4 linked regions of the Homo sapiens genome follow. The protein of the gene in region 2 interacts with the protein of the main gene of each other region in a biochemical or structural test. Each region holds a gene or a part of one and is shown on either strand. Other genes may lie near its edges. The genes, in order: COPA, SCYL1, CCNF and COPB1.

Region 1 (7,988 bases), on a different chromosome or scaffold from region 2:
AATATTCTTGTGTAGGATGGGCTGAAGATTCCTAGGAAATTAATGTTTTTCTTTTTGTGTACCTTTTCTAGGACTGGGGTTCAGACTTTCCGCAGAGACCATGATCGTTTCTGGGTCCTAGCTGCTCACCCTAACCTTAACCTCTTTGCAGCAGGTAAGGGCCATTTTCTCTCTTTTTTCTTTGCTTAATTCAAAGTTTATAAGTCTTGAAAGTGATTATTAGCTTTGTCTCTAGTAAATGTATAGTAGGATGACAAGAAGAAGAAGGACTCTCAGAGCCACTTAGTTGAAGCTTTTCTCCTTTTTTTCTTCCACTTTATATGTACGTAAAATGATGTGTGGTGAAAAATGCTTTGAAGAAAAATTAAAGGTAAGGCAGATAGAGACAGATGAGTATGGGGACTGCTGCTTTATATTGGGTGGTTCAGAAAAGTGAAAGGGTATGAGGCAATGGGAACAGCAAATGCAGAGACTGTGTTGTGAGAGGTGCTTAGCATGTCACCATCACATGCTAAGGAACACCAAAGAGGCCAGTTGGAGCACAGTGAGTAAGGGACTGAGTAACAGGTGAGGTCTGGCCAGATCGTGTATTGCCTTCTATGCCATGGTTAGAACTTAAGATTTTATTCTGAATACATGGAAAGCCATTGGAAGGTTTTGGGCAGGAAAGTGACATGATCTGGTTTATATTTGGAGAGCAGACAGTAGGAGAACAAGAGTGGAAGGGTTTTCTAAGGGATGATGGTGCTAGTAGGGAAAGAGCAAAACATTTTAAAAAACAGAATCACAAAGGGTTTTTAACATCCATTTTTTCAGTAAATACTTCTTATACTCTTTTTATATGCTAGAGACTGGGGAAGGATGGAAATTATAATTTCTGCCTTCAGGGAATTCATGTTACAATGTGGGTGATAGACCTAAATGATTACAGTGCAGGATGATAAGTACTGTAATGGAGGTTTGTACAAAGCATTAGGGGAACACAGAAAAGGGCAGTGTGGATAGTGACACTAAGTGTGGCAGTGTGAATAGTATTAGGAAAGGATTCACAGAGAATTATTTAAATAAAGATTCCAAGAATTGTGAGAATTTAGGCAAATAAGGGATGCATTCAGGTGTCTTGTCTTACAGATATAATCTTCATCCTTACGTATCTCCAATTTCCAGGTTTTTTTCTTGCCTACAGCTTAATTTTTTCTCCTCCTCTCCCTGTCCCCCAGGCCATGATGGTGGTATGATTGTGTTTAAGCTGGAACGGGAACGGCCAGCCTATGCTGTTCATGGCAATATGCTACACTATGTCAAGGACCGATTCTTACGACAGCTGGATTTCAACAGCTCCAAAGATGTAGCTGTGATGCAGTTGCGGAGGTAAATCGGACTTGTTTCTTTCCTCCAAACCCTCTCATCTGTCACCCTGATACAACTCCCACAAACAAGACTCTTCTTTTCTTTCTTTCATTTATTTATTTTATTTATTTAATTTTTTTTTGAGACGGAGTCTCGCTTTGTCGCCCAGGCTGGAGTGCAGTGGCGCGATCTCGGCTCACTGCAAGCTCCGCCTCCCGGGTTCACACCATTCTCCTGCCTCAGCCTCCCAAGTACTGGGACTACAGGCGCCCGCCACCACGCCTGGCTAATTTTTTGTATTTTTTAGTAGAGACGGTTTCACCATGTTAGCCAGGATGGTCTCAATCTCCTGACCTCATGATCTGCCTGGCTTGGCCTCCCAAAGTGCTGGGATTACAGGCGTGAGCCACCGCGCCCAGCCTATTTATTTATTTTTAAATTTTTTTTTTTTGAGATGGAGTCTCACTCTGTCACCCAGGCTGGAGCGCAGTGATGCAACCTCAGCTCACTGCAACCTCCACCTCCTGGGTTCAAGCAATTCTCCTGCCTCAGTCTCCCAAGTAGCTGGGATTACAGGTGTGCACCACCACACCTGGCTAATTTTGTATTTTGAGTAGAGACGGGGTTTCGCTGTGTTGGTCAGGCTGGCCTCGAACTCCTGACCTTGTGATCCGCCCACCTCGGCCTCCCAAAGTTCTGGGATTGCAGGCGTGAGCCACCGCACCCAACCAAGACTCTTCTTTTAAATGACATTTTGGATCTCGTATTCTGTCACAGATGGAATCCCCATTAGATGAGCCCGCTCAGTTTAAACCCAATGAGTGAGGGAGGCAAGGAAGTGGTCATGAGTAGAATGATAGTTCCCTTCTTGAGAATGCTAGTGACCTTGTGGATGGAAAATCATTCTGCCACAATTTGCTGGGTCTCTTGCAAGCCAGAGGAAGTTTCTTGATAGAGAATGGCCCAAACTGGTAACAGAACTTTTCGCCTTTGTTTGGCATTTCTTTTCTTTAACTCTCCCTTGCCTTCCAGCAAAAAGTGCACAACTCTGAACCAGAATATATGTCCCTGGAAACTCTTAATTCTGAAGATACAATAACCTCTGGGATGCCTGGCAAAAGGACCTGTCCTTTTGAAAAGCCAGCTGCATCAGCATGCTGAAACATTCATGGTGGCAAAATTTGGAATGAGGTTTTGATAACCACCCTTTAGCATCATTACAATAAAAAAATGGGTTTATGTGAATACTCCAAGGGACAGGAGAAACCAGCCAGAGACAAATCACATTATGTTACTCTGTGGTGTCCACTGCAATTACGTGTAGGAATTTGTATCCAAGCAGAACCAGTCCCACTCACTACAGTGAGTGTTAACCCTACCTACCTTCTGTTGAATAATTTGACTTCTACTATGGCTTACTTTTTAAAACTGTTTGTTCAAAGCTGAGCTAGGGAAGTTGCCAAGCCTTAAAGGAAGAGAATACAATATTTATTCATTTTATTCCTGATTATAAAAGTGATGAGTATATAGTGTAAAGATTGGATAAGTAGGAGGTGTGGGGGTGATTCCTTTCTTCCTTCTATTCTTATGCCTCTTCCCTGTTTTCTCCTTTTTCTATATATATCTCTAGTGGTTCCAAGTTTCCAGTATTCAATATGTCATACAATCCAGCAGAAAATGCAGTCCTGCTTTGTACAGTAAGTAACCTGTGGAGCCCTCCTAGGTTCTCCTCATTTTCCATAGGTCTCTTTCTTATGCCCTTAGGGAATCTTTAATGGCTTCTTAGAAACTATTTAATGGTCATTTTGTGAGAGCTGACACAGTGATCACTCAGAGACTCAAATCAGGTAGGTTTCAGTTGTCGTAAACATATTGAGCATTTGTGAACTGCCTATCTTTCCTAAAGCTGAACTTAATGGAGCATCAGAATGAATGACCCAGATCACTAGAAATAATTTGAGAGAATGTTTAGACTATATATATATATTTCCTATGGAAAGAAAATGTTTACCTTGATCCCTTCCTTTGGGTGAAAATAGAAGAACTATTATTTTGAGAGGAAGTTCATATCAGTGGGGTTGGCTTCAGAGTCATCAATGACTCCTCTCTGTTTCTTGCAACAGAATTTGCAAAAAAAAAAAAAAAAGAAATGACATTCTAATTTTAGTGCCCTCGTGGCCAAGTTAAAAGGAATGAAGTTAAATGTCTTTCCTCATATAACTATATTGTCTAATCTGTTCTTCTTTAATATCTAGTAGTCCCATACTCTGAGTTTTCTTGAGTGTTTTTTCTTTTCTTCTTTTTCCAATAAACATTTGCATTCCTATAGTGTCTTTTCTTTGATGTCTTTTTTTTTTCCTTTCCAGAGGTTGAGTACTCAGTTGATGAGTCCTCAGGGTGGGGTACCAGAATATCAGGGTCCTAGTCTGTTAATTTGTGGAGTAGAGAGCATTTCTTACTTTCATTCAGATAATATCTGCATCTTTGGAGGATAAAGAAAATAAAGTGACATCAGTGCTGATGTGTTTGGCAAAGAGCCCTATAACTCATAGATGTAGAAACAGTCAAATGCCCTCTGGGTGAAGGGTAAGAAAAGTATGGTTTCAGATTGGTGTCTGTGCAATGGAACTGTTTTCTCTGTCAGAGTAAATTGGAAAACTGGTATCTTGGGTGCTTCTCACTAACATTTTAATTTCCCCTTTTCTTCTACAGAGAGCTAGCAATCTAGAGAATAGTACCTATGACCTGTACACCATCCCTAAAGATGCTGACTCCCAGAATCCTGATGGTAAGTGTTCTTTTTGTCTACCCCACTCTGCTTCCAGCTCTCCTCACCCGCATCATAACTCCTCTTCAAGTTTTTCACATTCCATCCCCAAGCCATGGCCACATCACTCATGTCTGTTGGCAGGTGCTGCTGACAATTGCATCAGAGGCGACCATGGTGTGAAATATTCATGTTCCTCCTCCATTTTATTACCCCAGCTAGATATATATATTTTATAATTTGGTTATTAGAAACTCTCCATTCTCTCTTTCAGCACAGCATGTTATCCTAGTTTATTGTCAGTTGATATGACTTTCACCCTGGTAGTTTCATTTATTTAAAAATGTGGTTCCAATCTTATAATGCCTCATCCTGGGACTAGGGATTTATACTGTCCTATCCACATCCAGATCCGATTTGCTTCCTTTTGCATGTCAAAAAGATGAGGCTGCTAACAGCCCCACACCCCACCTGGGATCCCAGGATCCAGCTGAGACTCCTGCCTACCTCTTCCATTACCACTATCCCTTGTTGATGTCCTTGTGATTAGAACTTGCTGACAAAACATTCTCAGAATGGATTTGACTATTGCCTATGGTCTTTTGGGTGCACTTCTTCCAGCGGGTTTATGGCTAGTACCAGGTCAGAGATTTATTCTGCAGATCCCCACTCTTACTGGCATATTTTAATGATATTTTAGACCCCATCAACAGATTCCTAAGAAATAATTTGCTAGCTCTGTTTCTTTTGTGGGTGCCCCTGGGTTATTATTGTTGCTAATCGATCTCCTCTCTTTTAAATGTGTTCATAGTGAGAGAAAGAAAAGATATTTGTATTTGGTATCCATAAGTCAAAGTCTCCCTTATAAATTAGTCAGTTAAGCCATTTCTGACTAAATCTTATGGTTTGGTACCTCCCAACTAGCTCTTTGCTTTTTTTTTTCCCCATCTGTGTTTACAATTAATAGAATTTAAAATATTTTGTTTTGTTTTATTACCACTTTTATTTTCTGTACTTCATTTTTTGAGGGAGATAATAATAAAGGAGCAGCCCAGTGGTGGGCAACAGAGATGGGCTTGAATAATGCAGATTCCTGGCCCCTGGAAAACGGGAGTGTTGGTTTTGATAATAATTAGTTTCATAAATTGCCTGCCACTCCAGATGCCAGGGGCAAGACTGGCCAGCATGTTCTCTCCAGTTTTCTGCTGGTCTAATAGGTAAAAGAGTATTTTGATGCACCCTTCTGTTTATCCTTCTACAAGTTTCCCAGAGAATGGAGTGTCCATTTCAAAATTCTAATAAGCCACTGAACTGAGGAACATTTTGTAACTCTCTTCAGGGTGATAAGAATGGTCAGTTGACATTTACAGAGCAACAACTTGGTTCTAAATACCGCCCAGCACCAAGCTCTCCTGTCAAGATTTAGTTGGGAGTGCTCTGCCTCACCCTGCCCTACTAGGAAGTCTGCATTTGCATGTTAAAAGCAGCAGAGAGCAGCTGCATCCTGTGGAGGGGGTCCTATGACACAGGCTTGCTTTGCCGCAGCTTGGCCAGGGAGGCCCTGCTCGTTAGCTTGATGGAGTGTGCTGTCTCCCAAGATGGGCGGCCCTTCTGCCAGTACATGATGTTGGCTGAAATGCAACCACTTGGCCTAGAGAAAAGAGCCTTGGCAGGGGTGGTGGTTGGTGTTTGGAGGGGACTGGTGGGGAAAAGTCACTCAATAATAGCCCCAGGTTATGGCTGAATTAGTTAGGAAGCAGCTCAACTGGCAAAGCCAAGATGGCATCCAGCAAGACTGGCAGCTCCATGGCACCCGACTATGTCACCTGCCAGTGACTCACCACATGCTCCCACCCTTTGGTTTTGTTCTTCTCAGCGCCTGAAGGGAAACGATCCTCAGGCCTGACAGCCGTTTGGGTCGCTCGAAATCGGTTTGCTGTCCTAGATCGGATGCATTCGGTGAGTTAAGACTAAAAGCAGAAACTAATTTGGGGAGTGTGGTGGCAGTGGCCTGTGTATTGCAAAATAAAGACCATTGTTTTTTCTGTTCTCCCCCGGGCAGCCGTGATTCTCATGTATTGGCTGTACCTCTGTCTCTAGCCCTACACTAAGCCCTCTTGGGGGAATGGCATTAAAACTGATTTGATTGGGTTGATGATCGCCGTGGCTCTGGGTTTAAGAACCAAGCTAAAGTCACTCTTGACTACAGGAGCCCAAAACGCATCAAATCTGAAGTGAGTGGGCTGGATGAGGAAATTTCCCTCCTTCTGCTGCCTCCATTGTTACTTGAAATGTAATAGGTCCAGCACAAGATAAAGCACTCTGAAGAAAATATTTAACAAAATTTAAGCCCCAGAAACAGTGTTTTCTCTCTCTCATTCATTGAGAAATTCAGACTTTAGTTGGGACTTCTCAGGATGTTTTAGTTGGAGGAGAAAAAATAATGTATTAAGGCCCTTAGAGAAGATCTTGGTTGGCATGGTCTGTCTGCAGTGGTAATTGACATGGACAGGACAAAAAATACTTAGTTAATTGAAGCTAAGGAACAATTGCTGAGGAACATCATCAGTTGTCATCATCATCTATACACATTTCTTCTCTTAACCCCATCTTTAATACTTATTGCAGCTTCTGATCAAGAATCTGAAGAATGAGATCACCAAAAAGGTACAGGTGCCCAACTGTGATGAGATCTTCTATGCTGGCACAGGCAATCTCCTGCTTCGAGATGCGGACTCTATCACACTCTTTGACGTACAGCAGAAGCGGTAACATATCAGGTGCCCCTAAGCAGACAGCCCTGTAGTTGGGGAGAGTGGACATCTTTAGTGGGAACCTTTTTTCCCCAAGTGAGTTTGTCTTGTGGCTTGGCCACTTCTTGTGCTCCAAGACTCTTTATAGTAACTTTTCCCTTCTGTGATCACTCTCCATTCTTCACGTCCACACTAGCATTACAGTGAGATTCTTGGTTATTTATCTGTTTTTACAGTACTTACCTGAACAAAGCGTGTTCTCCGAGCTTAGAATGAGAGAGAGACAGAGATTAATAACATAGTTCCTACATTTAAGGGAGCTTGCAGTCCAGTGGTGAAAACAGACATACACAGATTCCCTAATAATACAAGGAAATGAGGGAGAGGGGGTTGAGGAAGGGGTAAGTGCACAATGTGAGCCAAAATGTTTAAGTCACTGAGCTACTATGTAGGAATTACATTAAGTATTTTATGTAATTAGAATTACATTAAGAAATTGGGGTTTACATTAATTAGAGGGTGCAATTGATGTAGATCAAAGCCTGAGACAAGGGAAATAGATCCATTCATGTTTGCACATCTCTATCTATCTCAGGACTCTGGCATCTGTGAAGATTTCTAAAGTGAAATACGTTATCTGGTCAGCAGACATGTCACATGTAGCACTACTAGCCAAACACGGTGAGTCTTCATTATATCCACCCTGATTTAGAGACCATTCCCTTCCACCCCGATCCCTGCCAGTCTACGGCACTTACCCTATCCAACAGAACACTCATGCCCTTTGCCTCTTACAGCCATTGTGATCTGTAACCGCAAACTGGATGCTTTATGTAACATTCATGAGAACATTCGTGTCAAGAGTGGGGCCTGGGATGAGAGTGGGGTATTTATCTATACCACAAGCAACCACATCAAATATGCTGTCACCACTGGGTAAGTTAATTATCTGGGATACAGAATGGGAGAAGACAGCTTCCTGAAATCACTGTCTTGTCTTGAGATGTAACTGAAGTCCTCCATGAATTTTCTTCATGGAAAAGCCTTACCTGGCATATATGTGCAAGGGGCATCAGAACATTCTTTTTTCAACTTTTTTAAAATTGAGAAATCTAAAA
Region 2 (7,988 bases):
AATCACTTAAATGGGGAGAGTTGACCTAAAACTCTGGACCTGGGCTTCTCTTCCCAAATCACTGGGTTCCACACTGCCTCAGGGCATGGGACCACAACAGCAGCTGTCCCCAGGGCTCGGACACAGGCTCCCTTCCTCCCTGCCCAGCTGACCGTTCATTCCTGTTAACTGTCTGGGCACGGCAAGCAACTGAACTTACAAACCCTGGCTGAAGGGATGCACACAGGCCATGGGGCCAAGCACGCCTGGATTCAGATCCCAGATCCCTCCTGACTGTGTGACTTCGGCCAACTCACTCCTCCTCTGGGAACCCAGATATGGGGCCAACAGCGTGCAGGGTCTAAGTCTCTGGGAGAATGAAGGCCCCCACACACAAGACTCCTGGCCCTGGAGGAGGCTGTGGTCCTGCGACAGGGACCGGGCTCCAGCAGTTGTGCAGGACACTCACGCTAGCACTGAGGTAGGAGCCGATTTTGCCCAGGCAGACTGTGGTGTTGCAGCGGATGGGGCCCTGTTCATCCTTGGCCTGTAGCCGTGCAAAGTGCTTCATCAGCTCCACATTGAGGTTGGCCTCGTTCAGCTTTGGGGCCAGGAGCAGCATGGACTGTGGGGCAGAAATGAGTGGGAACTGTGGGCTGTGGCGGGCAAAGGGCCTTGTGCAGGAACAGCCTCCTGGCAGCCCTCATCCCAGAGCACACCCATCAAAGCCTGCAAGGCCACCTCCCAGCCTGGGCCTGGCCCTGTCCAGCATGTTGAAGAAAGGGACCCCATTTCTGTCCCCCTTTACAGCAAAACCTCCAAAGTCTGTCTGCACTCCTGTTTCCCATTTCCTCTGCTCTGCTCTCCTGATGGCACTCCACCTAGACTCACACAAACAGCCCCACACTCTGCCAAACTGGCTCAGGGTGAGGTCACTGATGCCCTCCCCGGTACTAATTTCAACAGCCAGTTCTCCATCCTCACCAAACTTGACCCTCAGCAGTTCTGACACCCCTGAGTTTTCCCTCCCTGAAACTTTGGTCTCTGGTCTTCCAGGACACCACCCCCTCCTGGTTCTCCTCTGACCTGGCTGGCTGCTCCTTTTGCTGAGACTCTAACGTTCACACACCCGGAGCCAATCTAGAGGGCTCTTTTCTATCTAACACTCTTGCCCTAGGTGATCTCAGCCATTTCATGGCTTTCAATGCCATCTTGTGAGCTGACAACCCCCAGGCACATACCCCTAGCCCAGACTTCCCTAAATTTCACACATGCATAACCAGTGGCCAACTCGACATCTCCATCCAGCTGCCTAACAGAAACAGCCAAGATGGGGCCCAACATGCTTGTGTCATCTCAGTAAATAGCAACTCCTAACCTTCCAGTTGCTCAGGCCACAAGCCTCAGAGCCACTCTCGTCTCCGTATCTTTTTTGTTTCTGAGATAGAGTCTCACTCTGTCACCCAGGCTGGAGTGCAGTGGTGTGATCTCTACTCACTGCAACCTCTGCCTCCTGGGTTCAAGCAATTCTCCTGCCTCAGCCTCCTGAGTGGCTAGGATTACAGGCGCCCACCACCATGCCTGGCTAATTTTTTTAATTTTTATTTTATTTTATTTTTTTGAGACGGAGTCTTGCTCTGTTGCCCAGGCTGGAGTGCAGTGGCGCGATATCGGCTCACTGCAAGCTCCATCTCCGAGGTTCACACCATTCTCCTGCCTCAGCCTCCCAAGTAGCTGGGACCACAGGCGCCCACCACCATGCCCGGCTAGATTGTTTTTGTACTTTTAGTAGAGACGGGGTTTCACCATGTTAGCCAGGATGGTCTTGATCTCCTGCCCTTGTGATCCGCCCACCTCAGCCTCCCAAAGTCTGGGATTACAGGTGTGAGCAACCGGGCCCAGCCATTTTTTGTATTTTTAGTAGAGATGGGGTTTTACCATGTTTTACCATGTTGGCCAGGCTGGTCTCAAACTCCCATCGCCTCAGGTGATCCACCCGCCTCGGCCTCCCAAAGTGCTGGGATTACAGGCATGGGCCACCAGGCCCGGCCTAAAATAATTTCTTAAATTTTGAGATGAGGTCTCACTCTGTTGCCCAGGCTGGAATGCAGTGTCACGATCACAGCTCAATGCAGCCTCAACCTCCTGGGCTCAAGCTACCTACCTGCCTCAGCCTCCCGAGTAGCTGGGACTATAGGCGTGCATCACCATACGCGCCTAACTTTTGTATTTTTTTGTAGAGATGGGGTTTGGCCATGATGACCAGGCTGGTCTCCAACTCCTGGGCTCAAGCGATCCTCCCACCTCGGCCTACCAAAGTGCTGGGATCACAGGCGTAAGCCACTGCGCCCAGCCCCTGACCACTGTTTTTAAAACCACAAACTCTTCTCCCCACACTTTCCAACAATGCATATTTTCTTTCTTTTTTTGAAACAGAGTTTCCCTCTTGTTGCCCATGCTGGAGTGCAACGGCATGATCTCGGCTCACTGCAACCTCTGCCTCCCAGGTTCAATTGAGTCTCCTGCCTCAGCCTCCCGAGTAGCTGGGATTACAGGCATGCGCCACCATCCCCAGATGGTTTTGTACTTTTTAGTAGAGACAGGGCTTCGCCATGTTGGTCAGGCTGGTCTCGAACTCCTGACCTCAGGTGATCCGCTTGCCTCAGCCTCCCAAAGTGCAGGGATTATGGGCGTGAGCCACCGTGACCAGCCAACAATACATATTTTCTAATTCTGTTGTATTGTCTGGCAAGCCCACCCTCTGTGCCCTGGAAAGGAAGCTCCATGAGTGCAGGGGGCTGGGCACCTCATGCATGCTGCCTCCCAGCATGGGGCTTGGGCCAGGAACAGGCAGATGCTCGTTGTCTGCTGAATGGAGGACGTGCTCCCCCGCCAGCTGCCGAGCTGCACCCACGGCCTGAACCCACACAGCAAGGACAGTGTCTGCTTGGACCCATGGGCCAAAGCCAAGGCCTCTGTGTCTAGGGTGAGCCCCTCCAAGCCTTGGAAAACCAGGGGTAGCCACTCTGGGCCTGGCCACACCCACCTTGACCGTCTGCTCCCGGATGGCAGGGTTGGTGTCCAGGAAGCCATGTACGACGTGGGGGAAGATCTGGGTGTTGACTGTTGGCTCGTCAAGGTACTGGATGAACTGCTCCATCTGTGGCCCAGGTTGGGATGCGTCAACATGGTCAGCCCTTCCCACTCTATCCCCATAGCCATGGAACCGCTCCTGGCTTAGCTTTTCCACCCAGCAGGCACTGGCCAGCCAGGTCAACCTCCTGAGCCACCACCCAGGTGTTTGGCCTCAGGCCCAGGTGGAGGAGTGAGGAAAGGCCAGGAGGGCGCTAGGAAGGCCTGGCTCATAGTCCGGCTCATCTGGCCACCCTCTCAGAGCCTCTTCTATTTTTTTTTTTTTTTTTTTTCTGAGACAGAGTCTTGCTCTGTCACCGAGGCTGGAGTGCAGTGGCGCAATCTCAGCTCACTGAAACCTCTGCCTCCCAGGTTCAAGCAATTCTCCTGCCTCAGCCTCCTGAGCAGCTGGGATTACAGGCACCCACCACCGCACCTGGCTAATTTTTGTATTTTTAGTAGAGACGGGGTTTCGCCAAGTTGGCCAGGCTGGTCTTAAACTCCTGACCTCAGGTGATCTGCCTGCCTCGGCCCTCCCAAAGTGCTGGGATTACAGGCATGAGCCACTGCGCCCAGCCTGAGCCTCTTCTATAAATGAGGGTATCACCCCTTCCCTGCTCCTCCCCACCTGCCCACAGTGCCACGAGGAGGACTGGTGTGTTTGGTGGTCACAGAGGGAATGGCACTGGGAGCCACTGGTACTTCCTAGATCCCATCCATCTTGTCTGATGCTCCCAGCTGCCCTGGGGTTGCAGGAGAAAGACTGTATCCCCACTCTAGAGGGCCAGAGTGACTGAGCCAGGAGAGGAGGGGGCATTAGAGCGCTGCAGCCTGGGCAAGCTGGCCATTCCCAAAACTGCCAAGGAGCCCTGTATGTGGCCAACTTTCTGAGAGCCTGGCCTCATTGGGTCCCTCAGTTGTGTGTATGTTCAGGGGTGGGGTTTCTGGGGTCCCTGTGCAGCCAGGGCAGGTGCCTCCCCAGCCACCAGGTTGGGGTCTGGGTGGACCACCACAGAGTCTGGTACAGAGGCCTCACCTGCTGCAGGAGGCGGATGCGCATGGCCCGGTCAGTGGATGAGAACATCTTGACCACCACAGGGATGATCTTCTGCTGATACTCCTCAGCGCTCAGGAACTTGCCCACCTGAAAGGGCAGGAAGATGGGTTCAGCTGCTCACAGGAATGGGCTGACTTTGCTGGGCTTATCTAAATTCCTGGGGCTGATATCCCAGGGTGGGAATGAAGTGATGGCGGAGGGGGGGGCAGGCATTTCCTCAGTAGCTCCTCTACCCATATTCCATCTCAGCCTTGCCCTTAACCTTTCTGGGCCAAGGCCTCTTTCAGGAGGCTGATGAAAGCTCTGGGCCCCTCCCTACAAACAGGTACCTTTATGCCATATGCAGAAATTCTGCCTGCAATTTCTGGGGGTTCTCAGCTATACAGGACTTGCTTGTTGTCTTCTCCCCTCCTGACAAGTCTTTCAGATGAAAGGGTTCTCCCCAAGGTGAGGAGGGCAGGGAATGCCAGGTGCCCATAAAAAGGCGGGCTGGGGTCTGAGGAAAGGGTGGAAGATCCAGCCCCCAGAAGTCAGGTGAGCTGAGTGCTAAGCAGTCAGGAGGGAGGAGGGCAAAGTGGGGTGGTGAGTAGGTAATCCCCTGGGCCCTGGGAACCAAGGTGCACAGGTCAGACCCGGAGAAATGGAGGAAGGGCTGAGGGTTGTGAAGCCAGAGGTTTGTGGAAAAAAGGATTTTAGCGGCAGAGTCTCTCCTCCCCAGGGGACAGCTGGTCAGGTACCTGTTTATAGACACTGGCAGGAAGCTCCTGCTCATATGGGCTTGGGTCTGCCCTAAACAGCCTGCCCTACCCCAGGGCCTTCTCTTTGGCAGTTCCTGTGCACCCAGCCAGCCTTCTGGACCCCACAGTTCCACTCACCTTGAAGAGGGGCGTGAGGACAACGGCCCCAGCATTGCCGAACTCGAAGGCGGTCAGCAGCTGGGGCAGCACCTTGTGCCGACAGAAATCCTCAGGGAATGCGTCCAGGCTCTTGCTCAGCTCCTGGAAGAATTTTTGCTTCTCGGCTGGCTCTTTGATCTGGGGGAGTGAGGACGGGACCCGGGGAAGAGATCAGCCTGGTTGCAGCCCAAACCCAGCCATGGGTGAGGACAAGGAGAAGTGATGCTTATGGGCCTTATGGGCTCTGGAGCCTGGCTGCCTGGGTTCAAAGCCCAACTGTCCCACTTACCTGCCATGTAAAATGGGATAACAGCTCTACCATCTACGGGATAGTTCTGGGATTCAACCAGAAAATGCACATAAAAGCTGCAGAACAGGCTGGCACACGGCAGATGCTCGGTGGGTTAGGGACTGTTGCTGCCATTGCGGCTACCTGACCTGTTGCTGGGAGAGCAGCCACTAGGGACAGCAGAGGCATCACTAAGGGCATCAGGCCCTTTATCAGTGTTGCCTCTACTGCTCGCCACCCAGGATGTGAGCACAGAGGAGGAAACTGAAGATCAAAGAGGTGAAGGGGCTTACTTGGTTTCCCTGCCCTGGCTGGATTGGGCAGGAAGTTCCTGGTAGGCCGTGGGAAGGCAAGGATTAGGTACACTTTACTCCCAGACCTCATCCTCCCACTGAGCCAAAATGGACCAGCCTGTAAGCTCAACGGTCTCCTTTAGTCCTCCTAACCCCCCTTTGAGGCCATAATACCCCCAATTCATATTTCTGGAGCACAGATTATGTGCTAAAACCTTTACACAGATTATCTCAGTCCTCTTCACAACTTTACCAGGTAGGTGCTAATGTAATCCACATTTTACCAACAAGGAAGCTGAGGCACAGAGAGGGCAAGGAGCTTGTCCAAAGTCACACAGCTAAGAAGCGGTCAGAGGAGGGTCTGACTCACTGGTTTGGCACCTCTCCTGTGCTGTACCCTTCAAAAGATGCTGTCACTCCCCCCATTCACAAAGGAGGAGACAGAGGGTCAAGGTCAGCAGCCAAGAGTGGCCAGGCAGGGGTCATGACCCAGTGTTGTGTTCCAAAGTCCCTGTGCTCTCTGTTGTACCACCACCCCCATAGCCGCGGCTTGGCCGGGGAGAGGCGACCTCTGGCTTGGGACAAAGAGGACCTAGATGGCCCTTGAGCAGCTCAGACCAGCGTGGGAGGCCGGCTTGGTGCTCTGATCACATGGTTCAGCGGGGCCAAGGCCCAGAGAGGCTAAATCACATCCAAGGTCATACATCAAGAGAGTAGCAGCTGGGTTCTCCCCACCACTCCACCTAACAATGGGAAGAGGGGCCCCTGGGCACTGCCCTCCCATGTTCTCCTGGAGGCTCCCGAAACCCTATTTCCTATGGGGTACACTTTAAGGAGAAGGGTAGCTTGGCAGAGCCAGCCGTACGAGGAGAACTCCACGTAACAAAGTTCCTGCTGCCCCGACACTGCCCAGGAGGCAACGGGGTCTCAGCGTTTCCAGCAGCTTCTCCTTCCAGGTTTCCACCCTCCAAAGGCCCTCCCCGCCCCACAGCATCTGAGTCAAGATTCCATGACCTCTGCTGGGTCAGGGTCTGTGGAGTGTCTGCCACTCTCCTCCCCTGCTCCTGATTCTGATTCTCAGCCCCCGCTGTCTTCCCCACACACGGCTGGGGCCGGGCATTGCATAGAGCAGAGCCTTCCTCCCTCCTCCCTACAGCAACCCTGCAGGCCAGTGCACCCAGATGCTCCTCACTATACACATGTGGAAACCAAGGTTCAGAGGCAAAGCAGAGGGCTCCCTCCTCAGTATCTCTCCACGTGCTGTCGCCTCTGCCTGGAACTCTTACTCCAGGTACCATCCCTCTGGCTCCCACAGTCATGTCCTTCAGGCCCCAGCTCCAATGTCACACTTCAGAGAGCCCATCCCTGAATACCCACTCCAGTACTTTCCTTCCTGCACTGGATTTTTCTTTTCTTTTTTTTTAAGACTGAGTTTTGCTCTTGTTGCCCAGGCTGGAGTGCAATGGTGCGATCTCGGCTCACTGCAACCTCCTGCCTCCCAGGTTCAAGCTATTCTCCCGCCTCAGCCTCTGGAGTAGCTGGGATTACAGGTATGCGCCACCATGCCTGGCTAGTTTTTTGTATTTTTAGTAGAGACGGGGTTTCTCCATGTTGGTCAGGCTGGTCTCAAACTCCTGACCTCAAATAATCCGCCAGCCCCGGCCTCCCAAAGTGCTGGGTTTACAGGCGGGAGCCACCGCACTGGCTGGTTTTCTTATTTATGGTGTTCTTTTGTTTGTTTTGAGACGGAGATTTGCTCTTGTTGCCCAGGCTAGAATGCAATGGCACAATCTTGGCTCACTGCAACCTCCACCTCCCAGGTTCAAGCGATTTTCCTGCCCCAGCCTTCCTGAGTAGCCGGGATTACAGGCATGTGCCACCACTCCCGGCTAATTTTTGTACTTTTAGTAGAGATGGGGTTTCTCCATGTCGTCAGCTGGTATCGAACTCCCGACCTCAGGTGATCCACCCGCCTCAGCCTCCCAAAGTGCTGGGATTACAGGCGTGAGCCACTGCACCTGGCTCTTATTTATGGTTTTTATGTTTTCTGTCTCTTCCCCAGCAAGAGTTCCCAAGGTTGGGGATCTGGTCTGTTTACTTTTTGCTAGATTCTTGAGGACAGTGATCTAGGTCCGCCTCACCTTCCTCCACACCGTGCTGCCCACCCCCCTGCAGCCAGTACAGGGTGTTACACCCCTGGGGACCAGAGCCAGAATGTACACGTGGAGTGACTGGAGTAACCAGAGCTGGCCCTAAATGCCTGCTGGGCACAGAACACTATACCACACATTTTCAATTCTGACTCCTCACTGGGTCCCTTTGAAGTAGGTACAGGTTGAGTC
Region 3 (7,988 bases), on a different chromosome or scaffold from region 2:
GGCAGGTACAGGTGTCACAGGGACAAGGGCAGCACCCTAGTTGGTGGCAGAGATTAAGATGGGAGATGGGGCTCCTCTGCTTCCTCATGAAACAAAAAACATGCCAATGACCTGAGCCTGGAACCTCTGCCTCTGGGTTACCTGTGCAAGAAAGAAACAAGTCTCTGTAGCTTACACATATGCTGTGTGCAGCCAAGCCTATCCTCACCCACCAGGCTCTACAGAGGAGTCGGTCTGGAAAGCACTTCCTCGGGAAATGTAGACCATGCTGGGGACAGCTGGTTTAGGAAATGCAAATCGTATTGTGAGAATCATTTCCACGTTATTTCCAAAGGCGGAACTAGGGGATCCAGCATTAGTTAAAGGAAAGCAGTGGTCTGATTTGAAAAGGACAGGCTGCCGTGTAAGGACGCACGCTGCTGCTGAGAGACACCCACGTGGCTGGAGTGGGCTCTGCAGGGCACCAGTGGGGGACGAAAAACTCTCTAACTCCAAGAGTGTAGGAAACTCTGGCAACAGACTTTAGAACCCAACTTCAGAGAAGGGCAGCCAACTGCCACCCTCCCTGATCAGTCATCCTGCTGCCCTCAGGAGCCAGGGGACAGGGCAGTCCAGCCTGTGCCTGCCAGAGCGAGGCCACACTTTGGGTCCTGAGACTGCATGCCAGGATGAATTGCCTGGATGCAGGCACCCCACACAGCGGCCCCCACACGCTGAAGGCTGTTCTGCCACCCCTGCCTGCAAAAGGCCCTCAGCGTGGCACTCCATGTCTGACCAGGTGGGACACTCGTGGCTCATGAGTCAAGAACCAGTGAGGGCCAGGCGCAGTGGCTTGTGCCTGTAATCCCAGCATTTTGGGAGGTTGAGGCGGGCGGATCATTTGAAATCAAGAGTTTGAGACCAGCCTGACCAACATGATGAAACCCCGTCTCTACTAAAAATACAAAAAAATTAGTCGGGCATGGTGGCGCACGCCTGCAGTCCCAGCTACTCTGGAGGCTGAGGCAGAAGAATCACTTGAACCTGGGAGGCAGAGGTTGCGGTGAGCCAAGATCGCACCACTGCACTCCAGCCTGGGTGACAGAGCGAGACTTGGTCTCGGGAAAAAAAAAAAAACAACACAAAACAAAACCAAACCAGTGAGGAGCACATGAAGGGCAGGTGACCCTGAACCCGGGAAAGGCCAGCACGTCCCTGCCAGCTGGGCCAAGGGGGCTTCTCACCGGGTGCAGATGACCATGCAGGCGATGCCCAGCAGCTGGAGCCTGTACCGCGGCACCAGCCTCCTCCGCAGGTACCGGTCCACACACTCCACGGTCAGGTGCAGGCACAGGCTTGTGAAGTCCTTCATGGTGGCAACTTCCACCAGCCAGTCGATCAGAATGTACCTGCGGAAAGAGAAGCACGTGGGAACTGGTGGGGGCGTTCTCCATGTGTCCCTGTCTGCGATTTCAACCCCACCTGTTGGGCCCGACCAAATAAGCTGGCTAGCTCTGGAATCATGGGTTTACCCTGGAACCAAGGCTGGAGAGGCCATGTCACAGGAAGCCCGGGAGGCTCCGTGGGTCCCAGCCCCAAAGCAGGCCCCACATCCTTCGACTGTGTTCCTGGTGCTCCCAAACACAAGCGCTTTGAGACCTCGACCTGACGCAAAGTGAAAAGTCAGCCCACAGCCGTTGGTCTGCCCACAGTGGATGAACCCTGACCCTCGGGGCGTGCAGGGAGCGGGAGAAGGTGGACAGTCGCAAGGGAATGCCCCAATACGGTAAATGATGCCCCAATATGGTAAATGCCTTTCTGAATAGAGTGGAGACACTTGTAGTCCTACTTGGGGGACTGAGGCAGGAGAAAGGCTTGAGCCCGAGGCAGAGGTTACAGCAAGCCGAGAACACACCACTGCACTCCACCCTGGGTGACAGACAGCCTGCCTCAAAAAAAAAAAAAAGATGTTCAATGTGTTCTGTGGCTTAAAAAAGATCACTGCACTGTGGGAGGCTGGGGCAGGAGGTTCGCTTGAGCCCAGGAGTTCAAGACTAGCCTGGGCAACATAGTGATACCCTGTCTCTACTAAAAATACAACAATTAGCTGTGCATGGTGGTGTGCATCTGTAGTCCCAGCTACTCAGGAGGGTAAGGTGGGAGGATCTCTTGAGCTTGGGAGGCGGAGGCTGCAGTGAGCTGAAATCATGCCACTGCACTCTGGCCTGGGTGACAGAGCCAGACCCTGTCTCAAAAAAAAAAAAGGTGGCTGGGCGTGGTGGCTCACGCCTGTAATCCCAGCACTTTGGGAGGCGGAGGCAGGCGGATCACGAGGTCAGGAGATTGAGACCATCCTGGCTAATACGATGAAACCCCATCTCTACTAAAAATACAAAAAAATTAGCTGGGCGTGGTGGCAGGCACCTGTAGTCCCAGCTCCTGAGGAGGCTGAGGCAGGAGAATGGTGTGAACCCGGGAGGTGGAGCTTGCAGTGAGCCGAGATCACGCCACTGCACTCCAGCCTGGGTGACAGAGCAAGACTCCGTCTCAAAAAAAAAAAAAAAAGTAACTGAAGAAAGCAGAGTAGGATATTTTCTTCCAAAAAGTCCACGATAACTTTGGCATTACTGGTTTTAAAAAACACCCAAGGCTGGGCGCGGTGGCTCACGCCTGTAATCCCAGCACTTTGGGAGGCCAAAGCGGGCGGATCACGAGGTCAGGAGATTGAGACCATCCTGGCTAACATGGTGAAACCCCATCTCTACTAAAAATACAAAAAATTAGCCGGGCATGGTGGTGGGTGCCTGTAGTCCCAGCTACTCGGGAGGCTGAGGCAGGAGAATTGCTCGAACCCAGGAGGCGGAGCTTGCAGTGAGCTGAGATCGCGCCACTGCACTCCAGCCTGGGCGACAGAGCGAGACTCCACTTCAAAAAAAAAAAAAGGGTGATAAGGGAACTCTATGCCGCCCTGTCACAGGTAACTGGGGTTAAGTGGAAAGGGCTCCCTTCCCCTGGAGGCTGGCTTCCGCGCCGCTCTGATTAGAAGCCCCGGCCTGAATGCCTCACCTCATTGTGTCATTGAGTCCCTTCTGCACGGAGAAGACTTGTTGTTTACTGACAGCCTGGGAAGCCTGAAATAGCTGGCAGACGATCTCACTGGAAGCTCTCACCTCCAGTCCAAGCTGGTTTGCATTTGCACAGGCTTTGGCTAAAGACAGCTGAGGAAGAAAAGACAAACATGAGCGTGAGACAGCAGCCATGTTGCAGTTTTCCATTTCTGAAGCAAAGGCCCATTCAGGCACCAAATGCATGTGGACACACTGCCCTACTTAACTTAAACCTTCACAAGCTTCGGGAACAAGGATGGCTCAGGTTTTAATTATTATTCCTTTTTGTATAAGTAATAGATGACATGAGAAAAGATATATAATGAAATGTCAGTGGCCTTTCCACCGTGGCTCAGGTCTCAGTTTCTTACATGGCTAATGCCTGGGGAAGCTGTGTTAAGTCTCTGGCCATACGCCCCAGTGCTCTCCGAAAGGCTTCTGCCAATGTTTACACCCAGGAATAGGAGCACCTGCCTCATCACAGCTTCATCCCAGCAAACACTGTGATTATTAAAAACAGCTATTTTCAGAAGTTACCAGCTAGCCACCCAAAAACAGAGAAATATATATATATTATATATTATATATATATTATATATAATATATATTATATACAATATAAAACATATAATATATAATATGTAATATATTATATATAAAAATATCTATTATATATAATATATCTATAATATATATTATAGATATTATAACATAATATTATATTATATATTATAGAACATATAATATAATTATATAATATATAATTAACATAAATAATATATAATATATAAATATATAAAAATATATAATATAATAATATATAATAATCATATATATTAATATATATTTATATATTATATAATATATAATATATAATTATAATATAATATATATAATATAATATATATTATATATAATAGAATATAATATTACATATATTATAGAATATATTATATATTATAGAATATAATATATAATATTATATATGATATATATTATATTATTATAATTATTATATAATTATATGTTATACAATATATAAATACATATTTATATATAATTATTATATAATAATATGATATTATATATAATATTATATATTATATATAATAATATTATATTATATAATATTATATATTATATATAATATTATATTATATAATATTATATATTATATATAATAATATTATATTATATAATATTATATATTATATATAATAATATTATATTATATAATATTATATATTATATATAATAATATTATATTATATAATATTATATATTATATATAATAATATTATATTATATAATATTATATATTATATATAATAATATTATATTATATAATATTATATATTATAAATAGCTGGCAGACTAAATATAATTATGTTATAATATAATAATAGATATTATAAATATATCTAATTATGGATATTATATATATATAATTAAGGGCTGGGTGCGGTGGCTCAAGCCTGTAATCCCAGCACTTTAGGAGGCCGAGGCGGGCAGATCACGAAGTCAGGAGATCCAGACCATCCTGGCTAACATGGTGAAACCCTGTCTCTACTAAAAATACAAAAAATTTAGCTGGGCGTGGTGGTGCAATGCCTGTAGTCCCAGCTACTTGGGAGGCTGAGGCAGGAGAATGGCATGAACCCAGGAGGCGGAGCTTGTGGTGAGCCGAGATTGTGCCACTGCGCTCCAGCCTGGGCAACAGAGCAAGACTCCATCAAAAACAAAACAAAACAAAACAAAACAAAACAAAAACAAAAACATATATATATATATATATATATATATATATATATATATATATATAATTTGCTAATATCATGAGCCCAAAATATCTCATTTAAAAGTGCACTCTTATGACTAGTAGTAAGGTTGAACATTCCAATTTCTAACCACTTGAGTTTATTTATTTATTATTAATTTTTTTTGGCCAGGTGCAGTGGCTCACTCCTGTAATCCCAACACTTTGGGAGGCCGAGGAGGGCAGATTACTTGAGGTCAGGAGTTTTAGACCAGCCTGGCCAACATGGTGAAACCCCACCTCTACTAAAAATACAAAAATTAGCTGGGCGTGGTGGCAGGCACCTATAGTCCCAGCTACTCAGAAGGCTTGAACCCAGGCGTCAGAGGTTGCAGTGAGCTGAGATCGCACCACTGTGCTCTAGCCTGGGCAACAGAGAGAACTCCTGGCTTCAAGTGATCCTCCCGCCTCAGCCTCCCAAAGTGTTGGGATTATAAATGTGAGCCACTGCGCCCGGCCCTATTTCCTCTTTTGTGAGAATTGACTGAGGCCCCTTGAACTTCCACGAGAACTACGTTGTTGCATTTCTTGTAAACAATGTTTTTGTTGAGATAGGGTCTCCCTCTGTAGCCCAGGCTGAAGTGCAATGTTGCGATCACGGCTCTCTGCAGCTTTGACCTCGCAGGCTCAAGTGATCCTCCTGCCTCAGCCTCCTGAGTAGCTGCACTACAAGGCACACGCCACCACATCCAGCTAATTTTTTTTTTTTTTGAGATGGAGTATCGCTCTGTTGCCAGGCTGGAGTGCAGTGGCACAATCTCGGCTCACTGCAACTTCCTCCTCCTGGGTTCAAGCAATTCTCCTGCCTCAGCCTCCCGCGTAGCTGGGACTCTAGGCACATGCCACCAGGCCCAGCTAATTTTTTTGTATTTTTAGTAAAGACGGGGTTTCACCACATTGGCCAGGGTGGTCTCGACCTCTTGACCTCGTGATCCGCCCGCCTCAGCCTCCCAAAGTGCTGGCATTACAGGCATGAGCCACTTGCACCCAGCCCATCCAGCTAATTTTAAAATTTTTTGTCGAGATGGAGTCTCACTATGTTGCCAGAGCTGGTCTTGAACTCCTGGGCTCAAGCGATCCTCCCAACTCAACCTCCTACAGCGCTGGGATTGCAGGCGTGAGCCATCACGTCTGGCCTTCTTGTAAATCTGTAGACTGGCTTTTTGGACGTGAACACCACAATGTGCTATGACACCTCGGGCTGGGCCATTATCAATTTGTAATTTTGTCCCTAGCATTTGAGCGCAGATCACTCTGCCACCCACTTGGTGGGGTGACAAGAACAAGCTTCTATCCATTTGGCAAATAGGAGCTTTCTTTGATTCGTCCTGACAACTTTTTTTTTCCTTCAGACAGAGTCTTGCTCTGTCGCCCAGGCTGGAGTGTAGTGGTACTGCAACCTCTGCCTCCCGGGTTCAAGCGATTCTCCTGCCTCAACTTCCTGAGTATCAGGTGCCTGCCACCACGCCCAGCTAATTTTTGTATTTTTAGTAGCGATGGTTTCACCATGTTGGCCAGGCTGGTCTCGAACTCCTGACCTCAGGTCATCCGCCCACCTTGGCCTCCCAGAGTGCTGGGATTTCAGGCGTGAGCCACCGCACCTGGCCCTAACAACTTATTTATAGCTGTGAGGGGAGAGTCTACCAATGCTTGATTTCCTGCCTGTAGCCCTGGATGACTTGGTGACCAGGTGACATGACAAGCAAGGCGCTAACAGGAAGAGGAAGCAGGAAGGGACTCTCCACGCCCCTCTGCTCTCAAGTAGCCTCAAGTTTTGTTGTCAAGATCAGTTCTACCTATGGGACAACTTTCAAGAATGGCACAAATTTTGACAGCAGCTATAGCTCACAAGCATTTGAAAATTAAGAGGTTGGCTGGCTGAGAGGCAAGAGTGGATAGGCAGAGATGAATAACGCATTTCCCAGCTCTTCTCACAGTGTACCTGTCCTTTAGGACCAGTTCCAGTGCTGAACCGATCTTAGGGTGTCCCTCAATCCTGGCCTCCCATGTGGGAGCCCAGATAGTCCTGCCCCCCAATGTGGGAGCCCAGATAGTCCTGCCCCAAGGCTGGAGGGAGAAAGGCCAGCTCCCCACGTCATCCCAGCCCCGCACCTCACCTGCGCTTCCCAGCAGCCTTTGGCAGCGTAGTCCCTGAGTTTTCGGAAGCTGTGGAGGCATCGCCCAGGATCTGACACCTGTCAATGGGAGATCACCGAGCCTTTGTACAACTGTGTCTTGGGAGGAACTCAGAACCAAGACCCAGAAGGGCCGACACTACGCTAACTTCCCACCTCTTCTCTCTCAAATGGTGGAGTCATTTTTGGGGGTACCAAGAATAGCCGACTGACCAGTGGTTCCCGGAGGCTGAGAGACCGGGAGCAGCAAGAGCCACCTCCCTTTTGTGGACAGAAACGCATCCAAGGACCAGCATCAACTACGCCTTTGTCCAGCATAACTCCCCCCGACCCAGAGCAGGCACCACTCACATCTGTCCTCCTGTCGCTTTCCCAGAGGAGGTAGGAGCTGGTCAGACATCCCTGATGAGCAGCCTCCTCAAACAGGTCATGGGCCTGCTGCTGCTTCTCCTCATCCTAGAATAAATCCCAGCAGAGTTCATTGTTCCCTTATTCTTTTTCATTTTTATTTTTTGAGACAGTTTCACTCGTCGCCCAGGTTGGAGTGCAATGGCGCCATCCTGGCTCACTGCAACCTCCGCCTCCTGGGTTCAACCAATTCTCCTGCCTCAGCCTCCTGAGTAGCTGGGATTACAGGAGCCCACCATCATGCCCGGCTAATTTTTGTATTTTTAGTAGAGACGGGGTTTCACCATGTTGGCCAGGCTGGTCTCAAAATCCTGGCCTCAGGTGATCCACCCACCTCAGTCTCCCAAAGTGCTGGGATTACAGGCATGAGCCACTGTGCCTGGCTGGTTTTTTTGTTGTTGTTGAGGCAGAGTCTCCCTCTGTCACCCAGGCCAAAGTATAGTGGCACGATCTTGGCTAACTAAAACCTCAGCTTCCCGGGTTCAAGCAACTCTCATGCCTCAGCCTCCCAAGTAGCTAGGATTACAGGTGCCCACCACCATG
Region 4 (7,988 bases), about 51 Mb from region 2:
TTTCATATGCCTGTTTGCCAATTGTATGTCTTTGTGAAATGTCTGTTCAAATCTTTTGCCCATTTTTAAATCAGATTATGAGTTTTTTTTTTTCCTGTAGAGTTGTTTGAGCTCCTTACATATCTGGTTATTAATCCCTTGTGAGATAGGTAGTTAGCACATATTTTCTCCCATTCTGTGGGTTGTCTCATCACGTATGTCGATTGTTTCCTTTGCTGTGCGGAAGCTTTTTAACTTGATGTGATCCCATTTGTCCGTTTTTGCTTTGGTTGCCTGTGCCTGTGGGGTATTATTCAAGAAATTTTTGGCCAGACCAGCGTCCTGGAGATTTTTCCCAATATTTTCTTGTAGTAGTTTCATAGTTTAAAGTCTTAGATTTAAGCCTTTAATCCATTTTGATTTTATTTTTGTGTAAGTTGAGAGATGGGGGACAAGTTTCATTCTTCTGCACATAGTTTTCCAAGCACCATTTATTGAAGGGACTGTCTTTTCTCCAATGTATGTTCTTGGCACCTTTGTCAAAATGAGTTCACTGTAGGTGTATGGATTTGTTTCTTGGTTCTGTTATTTTCCATGGGTCTTTATGTCTGTTTTTATGCCAGTACCATGCTGTTTTGGTTACTGTAGCTATGTAGGATAATTTGATGTCAAGTAATGTGATTCCTTCAGTTTTGTTCTTTTTGCTTAGGATAGCTTTGGCTATTCTGGGTCTTTTGTGGTTCCATATAAATTTTAGGATTTTTTTTTTTTTTCTGTGAAGAATGTCATTGGTATTTTGATGGGAATTGCATTGACTCTAGATTGCTTTGGGTGGTATGGACATTTTAACAATACTGATTCTTCTAATCCATGATCATGGAATATCTTTCCATTTGTTGATGTTCTCTTCAATTTCTTTCATCAGTATTTATAGTTTTCATTGTAGAAATCTTTCATTTATTTGGTTAAATTAATTCCTAGGTATCTAATTTTATCTGTGGGTATTGTAAATGGGATTAGATTACTTCTTCAATTTCTTTTTCAGATTGTTCACTGTTGTCATATAGAAATGCTACTGATTTTTGTATGTTGATTTTGTGTCCTGGAACTTTACTAAATTTATCATATTTCTGAATTTTAAAAATGTATACCGTGTCTCCTTTTTGTGAGTGATTCTGTCAAGAAAAAAAAAATTTATAATTAATATGCTTTCCAAAGTAATGATTCTTGTTTAATTGAACTGCTAAAAATAAATACAACTTAAACTGATAAATATTGTTTAAACAGAGCAGAGTGAAAATTATGCTTCAAATATAGAAAGGATCTTTTAGAAGATAGTTTGCAGTTTGAAAAGAAACTTAATATTTTACTTGCCTATTCCCACTTCTTAATCAGCAGTAATGGAATACCTCCTGATTCTAGGTTACTTAATACTAGGTTTCTATTGAGGTCTATTTTTAGAGAAGGGAAAAGAAACCCAGTTTTATGATATTTAAAATGATACCATTATATACATAAGCCACATATATTTCCCTTTTTTCATGTTCATGTAGGATAGTTGAATGCAAAATAGTGAATACATTCATTAGTGTTTTTCCTCATAATTTAAAAATTTTCATTGTTAGATCCTCAGGATACCTAAGGTTATAGCTAGGAAGGTAAAGAATAAAATCTGCCCTTAGTTGGAACAATGCCCTAGTCTTAATTGAAGCTGCCTTAGCTACCTTCCTCCAACCAATAAATAAATACATACTCTCCAGTTTAATGTATATTTTTGCCATTAAGAAGAGTTGAGACTGGGCATGGTGGCTCATGCCTGTAATCCCAGCACTTTGGGAAGCTGAGGCAGGTGGATCACTTGACTTCAGGAGTTCGAGACCAGCGTGGCCAACATGGCGAAACCCCATCTCTAGTAAAAATACAAAAATTTTAAGTGGCTATTAAATGAAGAGTTCTGTGGGCCAGATGAACCACCGCATCTGACGCTCAGAACTCTGTTTCATAGCCGCTTAGCTCTAATCATTAGAAATGTATTTCTCATATTTAGGCCCAAATCTGGTTCCCGGTAACTACTACCCATTAGTTGTAGTTCTTTTCCTCATAATGGCCCTAAGGTTATTGAAGACTTGTAATCATTCTTTGTTCTCCCCTTCCCAAGATAATTCATTTATTTTGATGATCTAAACAGTTGTAGTACAGTGTGCTACTACATACTTCTCTGCCTTTGAGTTTTGGATCCAGAAGATTTTTAGTACTATAAATTCTTCAGTATGCAATGATAATGGTGTGAAATTTTAGATAGTTTTGCGTAAAATACTTTATGTTGCAGAGTTTTTAGGCTAAATAACAGTAAACTAGCATTTTATCTTTAATGTGTCATCCTTAATTCTAAATAATGACTACTAATCTAGAACATTTGAATTACCTCCCAGTTTTCCAGATGATATCTTAAGAAAGATTCTAAAGTTTTACAGCCTGCCTGCAGAACTATGATGAGATTTTAGAAATAATCCACTACTTTAGTTTTCAGCCTTTTTGAGTATGACGTTTCTCTTTCTAATGTTAAAAAAGTTACATATTTATCCTCCCATAATAGTAGTTTTAACTTTGTTAAAATGCACACAAATAGCTAAAAGCTGTTTTGAATTCAAAATCAATTAATAGTATGTATTTACATTTTGAAAAATAGCTATATGTGTTTTGAAACACGTTTACTTGGTATGACTGTAGATTCATGGAGCCTGCATTAACTCAATTGGTTAGGAACCAGAAATCTAATCCAGCGCCTTCATATTATATATAAAGAGTCTGATTTCCAGAGATAAATGACTTGAGCAAAGACAGATTATTTGGTGGAGAACCAGGTGGAGAACCTTGTCACTTGGGTTTGTACTTTTATTACCATTGCTGATACTGAAGTAAGAAGGTACATTTTATTTTGTTAATTGCTTTTAAATTTATGTGATGAATTTTCTTTTGAAATAATTGTGCTTTTTTTTAAAAAAATTTTTGATTCAGAAAAAGGAGATGTAAAGTCAAAGACTGAAGCTTTGAAGAAAGTAATCATTATGATTCTGAATGGTGAAAAACTTCCTGGACTTCTGATGACCATCATTCGTTTTGTGCTACCTCTTCAGGATCACACTATCAAGAAATTACTTCTGGTATTTTGGGAAATTGTTCCTAAAACAACTCCAGATGGGAGACTTTTACATGAGATGATCCTTGTATGTGATGCATACAGAAAGGTAAACCAAATCATAATTATTTCTGAATATTGCTTTGAATTTAAATGTAAAATTGGTAGAATGGGCTGTGTTTTAATTGTTAAAATTGAGTCTTTGATAAGATGTAAGTTGTAGAGATTTGGAATTGTAAAAGAGTTATTTTTAAAAGTTTTATTGTCACTTTTCAGACATTTTCTATGCATTTTATGTGTATATATTAATTAAAAAACAGTGACACACATATAAGACATTGATGAGATAGGTAAAAATTGCTTCAGTCAACAAGAATATGATGGAAATTGTCGGTAATCTAGGTTTTTTCTCAAACGTATTTTTTTTCCATTGGAAAGTTTTGCATTAAAATTTTCTTTTTGTAAAAAGCTGAAACTCAGCATTTCATATTTTAATTTTTATATCAGGATCTTCAACATCCTAATGAATTTATTCGAGGATCTACTCTTCGTTTTCTTTGCAAATTGAAAGAAGCAGAATTGCTAGAACCTTTAATGCCAGCTATTCGTGCATGTTTGGAGCATCGACACAGCTATGTTAGAAGAAATGCTGTTTTGGCCATCTATACCATCTATAGGTAAATAAAGATACTGCTTTGGCTTCATTCTGTGAGTACTGTTTAGTCTTTTAGACTAGTGGTTCCAAAGTGGTTGCTTGCAGACTGAATATAGCTTGAAGATATATTTTGTATGGCCAGCACTGTATTTTTTATTATGAACATTGAAAAGTCAAAAGATCTGGCAGCGCTGTTCCTAGCTTCCACAAGACAACATTCTGCTGAACTTGTATAACAGTAACCCCCTTTAAATAAGTTATATACTTTACAGTTTATGACAGTGCTTGTCATTCTCAACCGTATTACTCCAAGCCACTTTATATGTTCACTTGCTTAGCCTCTATAGGCTTTTAACTTTGGTCCTTGTTTTAGAATTCGTTTTGTGGAATGTCGGTCTTTTTACTGTCAGAAGCTTTGAGGAAGGAACTTTTTAAATGAGAAGGGCTACAGTTATAACTGAGTCCAATTCTTAGAAAGCTGAAGATTTTGAATTTTTATTTGTTTTTGTTTTGTTTTGAGATGGAGTTCCACTCTCGTTGCCCAGGCTGGAGCACAGTGGCGCGATCTCGGCTCACAACAACCTCCACCTCCCGGATTCAAGTGATTCTCCTGCCTCAGCCTCCCAAGTAGCTGGGATTACAGGCACCCACCACCACGCCCAGCCAATTTTTGTATTTTTAGTAGATATGGGGTTTCACCATGTTGGCCAGGCTGGTCTCGAACTCCTGACCTCAAGTGTTCCACTCGCCTTGGCCTCCCAAAGTGCTGGGATTGTAGGTGCAGGCTGCCACGCCCGGCTGAGATTTTGGATTTTTAAACCAATTTAAGGAACCAGTTAGATGAAGCTAGAATGCTCAGTTTTTACAGTCACAGGTATCAATTTATTAAGGACTACAATGTAATTTTTATAAGCATCTTTGTACTTTAGTAGATTTGTTGGTTAAGATATAATTTCATAGTTATCTTACTGTTAGATTTTATCCATTAAGGAAAGTGGTATTCTGGTTAATAATGTAGATGAGCCAGGCGTGGTGGCTCATGCCTGTAATCCCAGCACTTTGGGAGGCCGAGGCGGGCCGATAACCTGAGGTCGGGAGTTCGAGACCAGCCTGACCAACATGGAGAAACCCCGTCTCTACTAAAAATACAAAATTAGCTGGGCGTGGTGGCACATGCCTGTAGTCCTAGCTACTCAGGAGGCTGAAGCAGAAGAATTGCTCGAACCTGGGAGGCAGAGGTTGCGATGAACCGAGATCGCGCTATTGCACTCTAGCCTGGGCAACAAAACCAAAACTCCATCTCAAAAAATAATAATAAAAATAATAATAATAATAATAATGTAGGGTGAGTTCCTTTAATGTTACCATACAGACTACACAAATTTCAGAATTTAAACTATAGTGCACATAGAAAAATTAGGCCATTTATAGGACAATTGGAAATGTGAACACTATGTCTTGATATTAGGAAATTATTAATTTTGTGAGGTGTGATGATGAATAATTAGTTTTGCAAGTAAAGAGTCCTTGATTTTAGAGAAACCTACCAATATATTTACAGAAGAAAGGATACATTGCCTGTGATTTGCTTCAAAATAATATGGCAAGAGGTAAATTTGGCAAGGATATAGATGAAACAAAACTAGCTATGAATTATAATTGTTGAAGCAAGGTGATGGATTTTATTAAGCTAGTGTTCACTCTTCTCTGTACTAATATTTCTAAATTTCCAAAAGAAGAGGCAAGTCAGTAAGCAAATAGTACACAACTAATAAAATTCAAGGGACTATGTTTTTCCTCTTAATGTAATTCTTAATATATTGATATGCTTAAAATGTATGCACAACAGTTATTAGAGACATTGGTTAACAGATGGTGTGTTGAATAAATCAGCTTTTTCTGTATTGAACTAGAAAACGTATAATTTGATAATTTAATAGATGAAGGTATAACTTTGTGTTTCCTTCTACCAGTTCCTTTTTTTTTTTTTTTTTGAGACAGAGTTTCACTCTTGTCGCCCAGGCTCGAGTGCAATGGCACGATCTCAGCTTACTGCAGCCTCCACCTCCCAGGTTCAAGCAATTCTCCTGCCTCAGCCTCCCAAGTAGCTAGGATTACAGGCATGCGCTACCACGCCTGGCTAATTTTGTATTTTTAGTAGAGATGGAGTTTCTCCATGTTGGTCAGGCTCATCTCAAACTCCCACCCTCAGGTGATCCGCCCACCTGGGCCTCTCAAAGTGCTGGGATTACAGGTGTGAGCCACTGCGCCCGGCTCCTTCTCCCAGTTCTAATTGATTTGAAGTTTCAAAAAGCAGGCCGGGCGTGGTGGTTCATGTCTGTAATCCCAGCACTTTGGGAAGCCGAGGTGGGTGGATCACTCGAGGTCAGGAATATGAGACAAGCCTGGCCAACGTGGCAAAATGCTGTCTCTACTAAAAAAATAACAAAAATTAGCCTGGCATGGTGGCACGTGCCTGTAGTCCCAGATACTCAGGAGGCTGAGGCAGGAGAATCACTCGACCTAGAAGGCGGAGGTTGCAGTAAGCCGAGATCACTCCACTGCACTCTAGCCTTGTCTGGGCACGGTGGCTCACACCTGTAATCCCAGCACTTTGGAGGCCAAGGTGGGCAAATCATGAGGTCAGGAGTTCAAGACCAGCCTGGCCAACATGGTGAAACCCCATCCCTACTAAAAATACAAAAAATTAGCTGGGCATAGTGGTGGGCACCTATAATCGCAGCTACTCGGGAGGCTGAGGCAGGAGAATTGCTTGAACCCTGGAAGTGGAGGCAGCAGTGAGCTGAGATCGCACCACTGCACTCCAGCCCAGGCAACAGAGTGAGACTCTGTCTCCAAAAAAAAAAAAAAGCAAAAGTATGTTGTAAAGTTTGATTAAATTTAATTTTGGTATTGTCCAGAGAGTTACTAAAATAGTAAAGTAGGCTTTTATTAAATATGGATGTTACCTGTTTTATTTAAAGAAATTTTGAACATCTTATACCTGATGCTCCTGAACTGATACATGATTTTCTGGTGAATGAGAAGGATGCAAGTTGCAAAAGGAATGCATTTATGATGCTAATTCATGCAGATCAGGTGAGGTACTTTTTAAAAAATACTCTTATTACTGTATTTAAGTGACAATTGAAAGTATTACATAGACTTAATCATGTTTTTAGTCAGTAATTTTGTTTATAGTTCATGTGGTTTGTGTATTTTGAAATTTTTAAGCTTGTAGAAAAATACATTTTTTTCTTAACCCTTCTCTAAAATATTGCATATGTATACATTCTTTTTTCAATTAAACATTGAAGAGGCATTTTAGAGCAGCCACCCTACAGTTTTTAAAAATTAAAATTATTATGACTGTTCTTTCCTATGATGGTATAGATCTAAAATTGTTTAGTAGAGAAAAATAGTAGCTTTGCATAGATACATCCTTAGCCATGCCTGTGGAAATAGGGTGGCCTTCAGTGTAGAGGTGTATCCTTTTAGGTTCTTCAACTTTCATACACGGGTGCCAACTCCACATCCTGCTCTGCTGGTGGTTAAAGTACATGGATCTACTTTTGGTTAGCAATTACTCTGTACACCTTGATGCCATCTAATCTTGAAATTTTCTAGCCAGTATTTATCACCAAAATATGGGAAATAATATGCATGAAGTCTGAAAAATATGGAGGCCTTCCAGTCCTCTGAAATCTAGACACTGTGACTTTTTTCCCCCAGATCTTCCTTTAATGGATTGTCCCCCAGTTATTTAAAATTGTGGTAACATACACATAACAAAAAAATTTACCCTCTTAACCATTTTTAAGTGTTCAATGATTTTAAATACATTTATAATGTAGAACCATCACTATCTTCCATCCTCATAACTTTTTTTGTCTTGCAAAACTGAAACTCTGTACCCATTAAAAAATAGCTCCTTATTACCACTTCCTCCCAGTCCCTGGCAGCCACCATTCTACTTGCTGTCTCTGTGATTTTGACTAAGTATTCCGGATAAGTGGAATCATACAGTATTTGTCCTTTTGTGACTGGCTTATTTTACTTAGCCTAATGTCTTCAAGGTTCATTTATGTTGCGGCATGTGTTGGAATTTCTTTCCTTTTTAAGGCTAAATAATACCCCATTGTAAATATATGCTACATTGTGTTTACCTGTTCATCCATTGGTGGACACTTGGGTTGCTTCAATCTTTTAGCTATT

The links.
Region 1: the proteins of SCYL1 (region 2) and COPA form a complex in vitro, tested with the Homo sapiens proteins (one study listed by BioGRID).
Region 3: the proteins of SCYL1 (region 2) and CCNF form a complex in vitro, tested with the Homo sapiens proteins (one study listed by BioGRID).
Region 4: the proteins of SCYL1 (region 2) and COPB1 form a complex in vitro, tested with the Homo sapiens proteins (one study listed by BioGRID).

The regions. Positions count from the first base shown.
Region 1 is NC_000001.11:160,305,251-160,313,238, reverse strand, and holds part of COPA (coatomer subunit alpha), read left to right. Parts: intron 1-71; coding exon 72-154; intron 155-1,220; coding exon 1,221-1,371; intron 1,372-2,980; coding exon 2,981-3,047; intron 3,048-4,062; coding exon 4,063-4,138; intron 4,139-5,993; coding exon 5,994-6,076; intron 6,077-6,745; coding exon 6,746-6,885; intron 6,886-7,465; coding exon 7,466-7,551; intron 7,552-7,640; coding exon of another isoform or gene 7,641-7,667; coding exon 7,668-7,806; intron 7,807-7,988. UniProt on the Homo sapiens protein: The coatomer is a cytosolic protein complex that binds to dilysine motifs and reversibly associates with Golgi non-clathrin-coated vesicles, which further mediate biosynthetic protein transport from the ER, via the Golgi up to the trans Golgi network.
Region 2 is NC_000011.10:65,527,843-65,535,830, reverse strand, and holds part of SCYL1 (N-terminal kinase-like protein), read right to left. Parts: intron 5,203-7,988; coding exon 5,044-5,202; intron 4,256-5,043; coding exon 4,148-4,255; intron 3,140-4,147; coding exon 3,026-3,139; intron 605-3,025; coding exon 449-604; intron 1-448. UniProt on the Homo sapiens protein: Regulates COPI-mediated retrograde protein traffic at the interface between the Golgi apparatus and the endoplasmic reticulum. Involved in the maintenance of the Golgi apparatus morphology.
Region 3 is NC_000016.10:2,438,858-2,446,845, reverse strand, and holds part of CCNF (cyclin-F), read right to left. Parts: intron 7,494-7,988; coding exon 7,389-7,493; intron 7,098-7,388; coding exon 7,020-7,097; intron 3,198-7,019; coding exon 3,046-3,197; intron 1,455-3,045; exon of another isoform or gene 1,389-1,454; coding exon 1,224-1,388; intron 1-1,223. UniProt on the Homo sapiens protein: Substrate recognition component of a SCF (SKP1-CUL1-F-box protein) E3 ubiquitin-protein ligase complex which mediates the ubiquitination and subsequent proteasomal degradation of target proteins.
Region 4 is NC_000011.10:14,489,449-14,497,436, reverse strand, and holds part of COPB1 (coatomer subunit beta), read left to right. Parts: intron 1-2,997; coding exon 2,998-3,227; intron 3,228-3,625; coding exon 3,626-3,795; intron 3,796-6,757; coding exon 6,758-6,872; intron 6,873-7,988. UniProt on the Homo sapiens protein: The coatomer is a cytosolic protein complex that binds to dilysine motifs and reversibly associates with Golgi non-clathrin-coated vesicles, which further mediate biosynthetic protein transport from the ER, via the Golgi up to the trans Golgi network.